Homo sapiens: one gene and its partners. The protein of the gene in region 3 interacts with the protein of the main gene of each other region in a pairwise test. Each region holds a gene or a part of one and is shown on either strand. Other genes may lie near its edges.

Region 1 (3,653 bases), on a different chromosome or scaffold from region 3:
GCAGGGGGACACCAGGGCCCAGCAGTCTACCCACCCACCCTCCCAGGGAAACCCCTCGGGGCTGGGGCAGAACCCAGGATGAATGAGTGCAGGCGAGCACCCAGGTGTGTTAGTGTGTCCTTGGTGCTGGGTCCACTGCATTTGAGAGGCCCATGAGTAACTACGTACATGGCTTGTGTGAGCCTATGGGTGTGGGAGTGGTGCCATCTGTGAGCTGCAGGGTGTTGGCATGGCTGAGTGTGTGTTTCCCTAGGTGTTAGTGTAACTCTGTGAGACGCCATGTGTTAGAATGACTGTCTGAGATTGTGGGTGTTGGGAGATGCTCTGCGTACATCTCTGACTGTTGCTACAACTGTGAGTTCAGATCTCCAGGTTGGTATGACTGAGTCTCCGGGTGTTGGCACATCCGGATGCATGTGTCTGCATGAGTCTCTGGAGAGTGGTGTGATGCTTGAGGGGACCCTGGGTGCAGAAATGACTGAGGCCGGGCGCAGTGGCTCACACCTATAATCCCAGCACTTTGGGAGGCCGAGGCAGGCGGATTGCTTGAAGTCAGGAGTTAAATACCACCCTGGCCAACATGGCAAAATCCCGTCTCTACTAAAAATGCAAAAATTAGCCAGGCGTGGTGGCTCATGCCTATAATCCCAGCTACTTGGGAGGCTGGAGCAGGAAAATCACTTGAACCTGGGAGGTGGAGGTTGCAGTGAGCCGAGATCGTGCTATTGCACTTCAGCCTGGGTGACAAGAGCAAAACTCTGTCCTTCCCCACCAAAAAAAATTCAAGCTGCTGAGTGAGGTGGCTCACACCTGTAATCCCAGCATTCTGGGAGGCACATCACCTGAGGTGGGTGGATCAGTTGAGGTCAGGAGTTTGAGACCAGCCTGGCCAACATGGTGAAATCCCATCTCTACTAAAAATACAAACATTAGCCGGGCGTGGTGGTGCAAGCCTATAGTCCCAGCTACTCAGGAGGCTGAGGCAGGAGAATCACTTGAACCTGGGAGGTGGAGGTTGCAGTGAGCTGAGATTGCACCACTGCTCTCCAGCCTGGGTGATGGAGCAAGACTCCATCTCAAAAAGAAAAAAAATGTTAAAACCAATAAAAATGTTTTAAATTAAAAAACAGGCTGGGTGCAATGGCTCACGCCTGTATTCCCAGCATTTGGGAGGCCAAAGCAGGAGGATCACTTGAAGCCAGGAGTTCTAGCCAAGCCCTGGCGGCATACCAAGACCCTTTCTCTACAAAAAAAAAAAAAAAAAAAAAAATTAAATTAGCCAGGCATGGTGGTGTATGCCTTTAGTCCCAGCTACTTGGAAGGCTGAGGTGGGAGGATTGTTTGAGCCCAGGAAATTGAGGCTATAGTGAGCTTTGATCACACCACTGTACTCCAGCCTGGGTGACAAGGCAAGATCCTGTCTCCAAACAAAAACAAAAATAAACAGTCTTTGGTTATCATCCATGTAACTGTGGGAGTTTCTGGGTATTCGTGTGACAGTGTGCACATCCTTGAGTGTTGCCTGGGGTGTTGGCGTGGCTGTGTCTGGAGGTATTCGTGTGACAGTATGTGCACCCTTGGGTGTTGCCTGGGTGTTGGTGTGGCTGTTTTTTTAGGTGTTTGTGTGACTGCATGCACATCCTTGAATGTTGCCTGGGTGTTGGCGTGGCTGTGTCTAGAGGTATTCATGTGACAGCATGCACGGTCTTGAGTGTTACCGGGTGCTGGTGTGGCTGTATGCACCTCTCTGGGTGTTGGTGGCTACGGGGGTCATGGCATGCATCTCCCTGGGGGTCCGTGGAGATGGGTTAACCTGGCTCTGGAGACCATGGGTGAGCCAGTGAGCAGTGGAATCCCTGGAGTCCCGCATCCCCAGAGGCATCCCAGCTCACCGTGGGTGGCCGCCGGGTCGGGAAGCACCACGTGGGCGTGCAGCTCCTGCAGCTGCTGGTGCAGCAGGTCGAGGCGGCGCGAGGAGCCCCGCAGCAGCAGCTCTACGGGGCCCAGGCTGCGGCCCAGGTCAGTGGTGGCCCGCCGCAGGTTCTCAGCACCCTCCTTCAGCTTCAGCTCCTTGCGGATTTCCCGCCGCAGCCGCTCCCGCTCCAGCTCCAGCTGCTGCTGTACCCCGGGGGCCGCCAGGTCTGCCCCGGCCAGGCCCAGCTGCTCTAGCAGGGACCAGCTGCGAGGCTCACTCTGCGGAGGACAGAACAGGGTCAGTGGAGCTAGGAGAACTCCAGGTGCAGACCACATGCAGCCAGCCTGGCCCAGCCTCTGCCCTGGACTGGGGCTCCCAAGACAGGGCCTGCTCTACCTCCTCTGACTCCCAAAACTGGAAGGTGACGAGGCCTTGCCACTGCTTCCTGACCTCCCCAAACTGGGAGGTCTCAAGAGCAGGGCCTTGTCACCCCCACCACCACAGCGTCCCCCACATTAAGGGGGTCTCAAGAATAAGATCTGTCTCCCTTCTGCTGCCTCCCCCAAACTAGAGGGTCCCAAGGGAAGATTCCTTCTTTTCTCTGCTGCTCCCCGAAACTAAGAGGGCCCAAGGGCAGGCCCTGTCTTCTCTCTGCTGTACCCCTAAAACTACAGGGTCCTGAGGACAGGCCCCATCTTCCCTCACTTGTACCCTGAAACTATGGCATCCCGAGGGCAGGCCTCATCTTTCCTTGGCTACACCCCCAAAACTAGGGTATCCCAAGGGCAGGCCAAGTCTTCTCTCTGCTGTACCCCCAAACTATGGGGTCTTGAAGACCCTCATCTGCTCTTCTCCTATGTTCAACAACTGGGACCCTAAAGAACAGAGCCCGGTCTCCTTCCTTCTGTCTCTCCCCAATCTGGGAGCCCCGAAGGGCACTGGATACTCTCATCCTCCAGAGAGAGAACTCTGAGGCCAGTGCCCCATCTCCTCTCCTTGTTCCCAAACTGAGAAGTACCCGGGGAAGGACTACTGGCCTGTGCCACTTGGGGCCCCCTTCTGCCTGCCCCCACAGGGACCCTGGACCCCACCTCCAGCTCCTGCTCCGAGGGGTTATTGGCCTCCGCCATCCTGGGTCCGGGCTGAGGGCCCCGCCCTCTTCCTGAACCTCAGCCCCACCAGGGCCTCTCGGCTGCCACTTCCTCTTTCCTGTCAACTCCCAGCACCCCTCGCGCGGGGCCAACTCCAGGGCATCTAAGGGACCTCCTGTTCCTCTAGATGAAACCCAGGGACAGTCCTTGCTCCCTGTCCCTAGAGAATGTCCAAGGTGCAGGCAGTTTGTACATTCACACACTCATGGTGTATCCATGAGGGGACGCAGGCTCCGAGGGCTGACTTGAGTGTGCACTAACTTTCAAATACATATGTGGATATGCACAGAACACAGGCTCACAAATGTTTGCACGCTTTCTTTTTCTTTCCTTTTTTTTTTTTTTTTTTTTTTTTTGAGACAGAGTCTCCCTTTGTGTTGCCCAGGCTGGAGTGCACTGGTGTGATCTTGGCTCACTGCAACCTCCGCCTCCCAGGTTCAAGCAATTCTCTTGCCTCAGCCTCCCAAGTAGCTGGGATTACAGGCATGTGCCGCCACGCCCAGCTAATTTTTGTATTTTTAGTAGAGACAGGGTTTCACCATGTTGGCCAGGCTGGTCTCGAACTCCTGACCTCAGGTGATCCGCCC
Region 2 (3,653 bases), on a different chromosome or scaffold from region 3:
CTGGCTAATTTTTTTGTATTTTTAGTAGAGACGGGGTTTCGCCATGTTGGCCAGGCTGGTCTCAAACTCCTGCACTTAGGCGATCTGCCTGCCTTGGCCTCCCAGAGTGCTGGGATTACAGGCGTGAGCCACTGTGCCTGAGATACTTAGTGATAAGTGGATTCCTCTATTTCCTACAACTTCTGGTTTGATCTTGGTCTATATATGAAAATAAACTGGGGGATATGTTGGAGAATCCAGGTTGTCACATTTTATACATAACTTGTAACTAAAAAAAGAAAGGAAAGCCTAGATCCTAGCTTCATATTTCTCACCCAGCTCCTGCAGTGGGGAAGACCTCTTCAGTGCATAAGGTGTCAGAGTCCACTCTATTAAGCAAATCTTTGAGAGCTACCAGGGCTTCAGCATCCACCAAGCCACCTGCAATTGCTGCCACATCTTTGCCTTGAAAACTCTGCAACTAGAAACAGATGAAAAGGGCATCACCAAGAAACCTACACGCAGCAAAGACCACAATGAAATGTTCAGAAAATAAAACAGTACTTGTTTTCAAGTACAAAAAAAGTTAACAGACTTCTGATTAAAAGTTTTACAACATGCCCAGGCACACTGGCTCATGCCTGTAATCCCAGTACTTTGGGAGGCAGAAGTGGGCGGATCACCTGCAGTCAGGACTTTAAGACCAGCCTAGCCAACATGGTGAAATCCCATCTCTACTAATAATACAAAAATCAGCTGGGCATGGTGGCATACGCCTGTATCCCCAGCTGCTCGGGAGGATGAGGCAGGAGAACTGCTTGAACCAAGGAGGCAGAGGCTGCAGTGACCCGAGATCGAGATCGCGCCACCGCACTCCAGCCTGGGCGACAACAGCAAAACTCCATCTCAAAAACACAAAAAAAGTTGTACAACAATTATTAATTAATCTAAAAGTGAAAAGCTGCAGAGGTGTTATGTGGGGCCACAGCTAATAACATCAACTTAGAAGGAAGCTGTTTTATATTTAGGAACAAAGGCACTTCAAAATGAGGTCTGGAGAATGAAGTGGAACTATAGTTACCTTAAATGCGACCTCCTCTGAAGTATCTGCCTTTCCCTCTAGTGCTTTATGTTGTCTTTCTCTAACAAGAAAACTATTCCCTCCACTTGTACTCTGGCAAGCTTATATTCATTCTCAGATTCTTCTTTAAGAATCACCTTCTGTAGGAAGGCAGCTTTTTTTTTTTTTGAGATGGAGTCTCGCTGTGTCACCCAGACTGGAGTGCAGTGGTGCGATCTCGGCTCACTGCAACCTCCAAGGAAGGCATCTTGATATGCCTGTCCTAGTTAGGCATTCCTCCTACGTGCTCTCACTCATATTACTCCTTATATAATTACTCATAGCTGCATATAATAATTGCTGAATTGTGCAACTTTCTCTACTACAAGATTGTAGGATGCAGGAATGATGTGTCTCTGGTCTTTATATCCCTTAATAGCATAATATCTAGCATATGTCCTCAGTAGATGTCTGTAAAATGGAAGGAGATTAAATCATAATCTTGGTAAAAGTAAAAAAGGGAAGAAATATACATCCCCCCCTTCATGGCAAAGATGTTTCTTGATAATCACAAACACTATTTAACACTATTTATTTCAAATTTTACCATTCCAGCTACGCGAGAGAGCGCATCCTCCCAAGAAGTATAGGTTAAAAGCCCTTTTTCATTTCTGACCATTGGCTCGGTAAGTCTTTGACGTTTTAGCCCATCATAGGCAAATCTAGAAAACAGAAATTACACCATTGTGGAATCTTGCTAAAGAAGTAACTATAATTTTCAAGTTAAATCAACAAGAAATGTTATTTAAATACAGTACTGGTTAAAGTGTCAAATATCTAAACACCTAGATACAAGTAATTATTCCAGATATTTTTAGAGATGAACTAATAGATTTTATGAACTTCACCTAAAACTAAAATACCATCTGAAAGTTTGATTTCTTCCCTTAAATCATACAAAAAAAAGTTTGATTTCTTATACTTTCAGCTAACTGAACAATCTTAAAATTACAACACAAAAAAATCTGACAGCTAAAAAAGTCAAATCATTTTTATTTACAAAGCATGAGTATCTCTAAATATTTTATCAAAATTATATTGTGCAAACTCTTCTATTCAGCTTCTTTTTCAAGCAATCATCCCACCTCGGCCTTCCAAAGTGCTGGGATTACAGGTGTGAGTCACTGCGCCCAGCCTAGCTTCTTTTCTCTAATGAACAAACTGAAATAAGTTGAGAATGTATCAATCTACTTGAATTTCTCCATGTGGGAGGAAAAAATATCTTTCTCAAAGTAAATACAATATCCAGGGATTGACCTAGGACTATTAAAGTCAGTATTATCACATTATATAAGCAACTCAGATTCCAGTAGTCTATATTCAGTAACTAATTTGCAAATATAAAAGATAATTCTTCAAAATTATTATAAAATTTCCTTTAAATAAACTGTAAAAGTTAAGGAAAACAATATAGCATATACCTGGTTTTATCAGAGATCCACTCTTCATTGATGTCCTCATGCATACGTGGCAAAATCCTCATCACTTCTCCAGTTCTTGTGCTAACCACAATATTACTTCCAACCGCATCCATTACATCAATGGATTCTGTCTTTCTGAGAAACACATACGGTGTTTACTATGGTGCTTTTGGGAATAAAGAAAGTTTCTGTTACCTGGTTTACCAAAAAATTTTTTTTACAATTAATTCCCTTTCTGAATTACTTTAAAAAATGAAGCTTAGAGGAACTGCAATTAAATAAAAGAACCCCCCACCTTTTTTTTTGCCCTGGGGTCTCACTCTGTTGCCCAGGCTACAGTGGCATGATCATAATTCACTGCAGCCTAGAACTCCTGGGCTCAAACTATCCTCTCACCACATTTTAAAAATTTTTTGTAGAGCCGGTGTCTCATTATGCTGACCAGGCTGGTCTTGAACTACTGGTCTCAAGCAATCCTCCCACCTTGGCCTCCTAAAAGCTGGGATTATAGGTGTGAGCCACTGCTCCCGGCACACCCACATTTGAACACATAAATTCCTGGCACAGTAAGGAAGGCTTTAAAACTATTATCTGACACAGAAGCTAGTTTGAAGGGGCTCCAACTAGCCAAATCTGGGACGATTCAACAAGAGGGGCAGGATTTCTGTCTATGGGAGATTAAGGAGCTCAAAAAACCTTCCCACTGAAAAGCAAAAGTAAAGCTGGCCAAAAATGACAAAACCCACCATTTCAGCAGTTTAGAAATCTAAACACATACAATGTGGGAAGCTTTTATGCACTGAAAAACTGGTGGCTGGGCTCAGTGCTCCTCCTATGCTCCTCTCCACCCCCTCAAAATGGAATTTCTTCGAGGCCGGGGCAGGCTGTGAAGATGAGAACTTCTTTGGTACAGATGGAGACAACTCACTTAACTTGGAGCACGAGGCAAACTTGTTTGTGGAGGTGATACTTTGGAGGTCATCGTAGCTGAGGATAGCCAAGATTTTACCAGCCTAAGTTTGTAGTGGTAATTGCGGCAAGCATTCCTAACAGAGGCTGCTACATGTGCAGGTGAAACCAGAGAAAGCTCAACCTATTCATAAACTCCTGGATAACTCTGAGACCCAAAGGGC
Region 3 (2,804 bases):
ACCCTTCCCTCCCTCCAAGACAGCCTGCCCTTTGGGAAATTTATGTTGTCTTTGCAGCTGGCACCGTGCTGTCTGGCACGTATATCAGTGCTGTTCCATTGATCTGTCCAGCTGAGTCCAGAGCAAAAGAGCTAGCTTTGGCGGGCAGTGAAGTGAGAGCAAGGGTGTGCGACCTAGCCAGGCCACTTACCCCAGCCTTCCCTGTCCCTTCACTACCTTGACCTCAGTTTTCTCCTTCAGGACTAAAGGCCAACTTCTTATGCTCTACAGCTCCAACCAGAGGTACCAGCTGACCCATATAATCTGGAAACAAGTTTGAATTCATTGCTGTTAGAAAGAATTGCAGTAATACTGAGTGAATCAAACAAGGCACATGTGCTCTCGTTTGCATTGCATATACATTGATTATCCCAGAAAGAAAACAAAAGAAACTGGTGATGGTGGTTACCTATTGCCTATTCAAAAATAACGGTTTAAAAAACACCCCAAAACTAATAGGGATGGATCGTGAGTGGTTACGGAAAAAGTAAAATAATGTTTTGCCCCTAGTTTGGATTTGACAGGAAGAACTGGTAATATTGGGCCTGAATCCATCCAGCATGGCCCTAACCAGCCAGGGCCAGTCTGGGCTGCTCCCCTTGGGTTGGGCCTGCACCCCATCCCTGTCACTCAGATGGCTTTTGTGGCCTGTGTCCCAGCTTGGTCTTCAGGTCTTGCCTGGCTGAGATTGTTGGTTTTCATGGTAAAAGCAGGGTCAGACTCCCTGCCGTCACCTGCTGCGTAAGACACAGAAAGTGCTGCCTGCTGACTGACTGTCTCTCCTCAGGGACTGGCTGGCTTCGAGCAGGGCATCGGAACCAGGCCTCCTGGCACTGGCCTGGGTAGAGCCAGGGCGAGCACCAGCTGACCCCCAGTGGAACCCTGTGACAGTCCTGCCAGGGCCCAGGCCATCCCAACCGACTTCCATCTCATGGACCCTCCAGCGGAGAAGCCGGGAGAGGCTGGCGGACTGCAGATCACACCCCAGCTGCTGAAGTCACGCACAGGCGAGTTCTCCCTGGAGTCCATCCTGCTACTGAAGCTGCGTGGCTTGGGACTGGCTGACCTGGGCTGCCTGGGAGAGTGCCTGGGCCTGGAGTGGCTGGACCTATCAGGCAACGCGCTCACCCACCTGGGCCCGCTGGCCTCCTTGCGCCAGCTAGCTGTGCTCAATGTCTCCAACAATCGGCTGACGGGCCTGGAGCCACTGGCCACCTGTGAGAACTTGCAGAGTCTCAATGCCGCAGGCAACCTACTGGCCACCCCGGGCCAGCTGCAGTGTCTGGCTGGGCTACCGTGCCTGGAGTACCTGCGGCTCCGAGACCCTTTGGCCCGGCTCAGCAACCCGCTCTGTGCCAACCCCTCCTACTGGGCTGCAGTCCGGGAGCTGCTGCCTGGCCTGAAAGTCATCGACGGTGAGCGTGTGATTGGGCGTGGTAGTGAGTTCTACCAGCTGTGCCGAGACCTGGACAGCTCCTTGCGTCCCAGCTCCAGTCCAGGCCCCAGAGCCACCGAGGCCCAGCCCTGGGTGGAGCCAGGCTACTGGGAGTCCTGGCCCAGCCGGAGCAGCTCCATCCTGGAGGAGGCCTGCCGGCAGTTCCAGGACACACTGCAGGAGTGCTGGGACCTGGACCGCCAGGCCAGCGACAGCCTGGCCCAGGCGGAGCAGGTACTCAGCTCTGCGGGCCCCACCTCTTCCTTCGTCTTCTGAACGTGGCCTATGGCCCAGGACAGCCTGGCAGGTGGCCTCGCTGCCCCCAGTTCCCCTCTCTGCCCCCACACTCGTCTTAGTTGCTTCACACTGGTCACTGGCCCTGCACACTGGGCTATTGCTTTATCCCTATCCTGAGAGCAGCCCCTCCCCACCATCCCTCCACATGCTGCAAGGACAGACTGAAGGGCTGTGAGCAGGTGTAAGGGCTCCCACATCCGTGAGCCTGTGTCCGCAGCTGCTGCCACTCTGGGCTGCTCCAGCCTGCAACTTAGTGGAAGGAATTACTTCCTCCTGAGGCTACAGGCGAGAAAGGTAGGGATGGGCCAGCCTCCCGTCTCAGCTGTTGGGAGACAGTAGGCAGGCTGAGTGGCCCAGAGCACTCCTGGAAGTGGGACTCCCCTGCCTTGCAAATGTGCCTCTCCAGACTGCTCCTGCACTTACCCCCTCCCCGCAGCACCTTCTCTGCCCGTTCTTGTCCACACATCTATTAAATGCTTCTGTTTTCATTTGCATCCCTGCCTGGCATTTCATGGGGGCACCTCTGGCTCTGGAGCACAGGAGGCTCTGCTCACCCTGCCCACAGGAAGGGGTCCCAGAGGAAGGGTCCTGTCCCCCTGCCCTCTCTGGCCGCCTCTGAGCTACGCTAAGGAGGAAGTCGTGCAACACAAGGAGCTGAGAGGCAGCTGGGAGAGCAGCTTTATTATCATGGCTGGGGATAGAACGGGTTCCTCTCCCTGGGGGCTGGGGTCTTCCACTGGTTACCACCCGCAGCGGTCCTGGAGGCACCACGCATCTCTAGACAAAAGGGGAAACAGGTTTGGGGGTGAGGGAGGTTGCTTCAGCCCCAGTCCCAGCTTTCCTCCCAGGCTTCTGACCTGTCCCCTCCCAGGCTCCCAAAGCCCAGCCCAGCCCCTCAGCATTCCCAGGGCTGGCCTCATCCAGACGGTGCTCTCAGCCCCCTGGTGCCTACCAGTGCTGGCTTAGCTGCGGGGCAGGGCCTTGGAGAAGGCGAACTGTCCAGGGAAGTAGAAGCTGTGGGGGTCCTCACCAG

Evidence for each region.
Region 1: the proteins of LRRC61 (region 3) and PKN1 interact in binary tests that used the Homo sapiens proteins (3 or more experiments, as listed by UniProt).
Region 2: the proteins of LRRC61 (region 3) and NDUFS1 interact in binary tests that used the Homo sapiens proteins (3 or more experiments, as listed by UniProt).

What each region holds. Positions count from the first base shown.
Region 1 is NC_000019.10:14,439,683-14,443,335, reverse strand, and holds part of PKN1 (serine/threonine-protein kinase N1), read right to left. Parts: intron 3,060-3,653; exon of another isoform or gene 3,046-3,059; coding exon of another isoform or gene 3,007-3,045; intron 2,194-3,006; coding exon 1,893-2,193; intron 1-1,892. UniProt on the Homo sapiens protein: PKC-related serine/threonine-protein kinase involved in various processes such as regulation of the intermediate filaments of the actin cytoskeleton, cell migration, tumor cell invasion and transcription regulation.
Region 2 is NC_000002.12:206,142,372-206,146,024, forward strand, and holds part of NDUFS1 (NADH-ubiquinone oxidoreductase 75 kDa subunit, mitochondrial isoform 1 precursor), read right to left. Parts: intron 2,656-3,653; coding exon 2,521-2,655; intron 1,762-2,520; coding exon 1,647-1,761; intron 461-1,646; coding exon 315-460; intron 1-314.
Region 3 is NC_000007.14:150,335,892-150,338,695, forward strand, and holds the end of LRRC61 (leucine-rich repeat-containing protein 61), read left to right. Parts: intron 1-826; 5' UTR 827-970; coding exon 971-1,750; 3' UTR 1,751-2,265; downstream 2,266-2,804. Other genes in the region: RARRES2 (retinoic acid receptor responder protein 2 precursor), read right to left, coding at 2,734-2,804.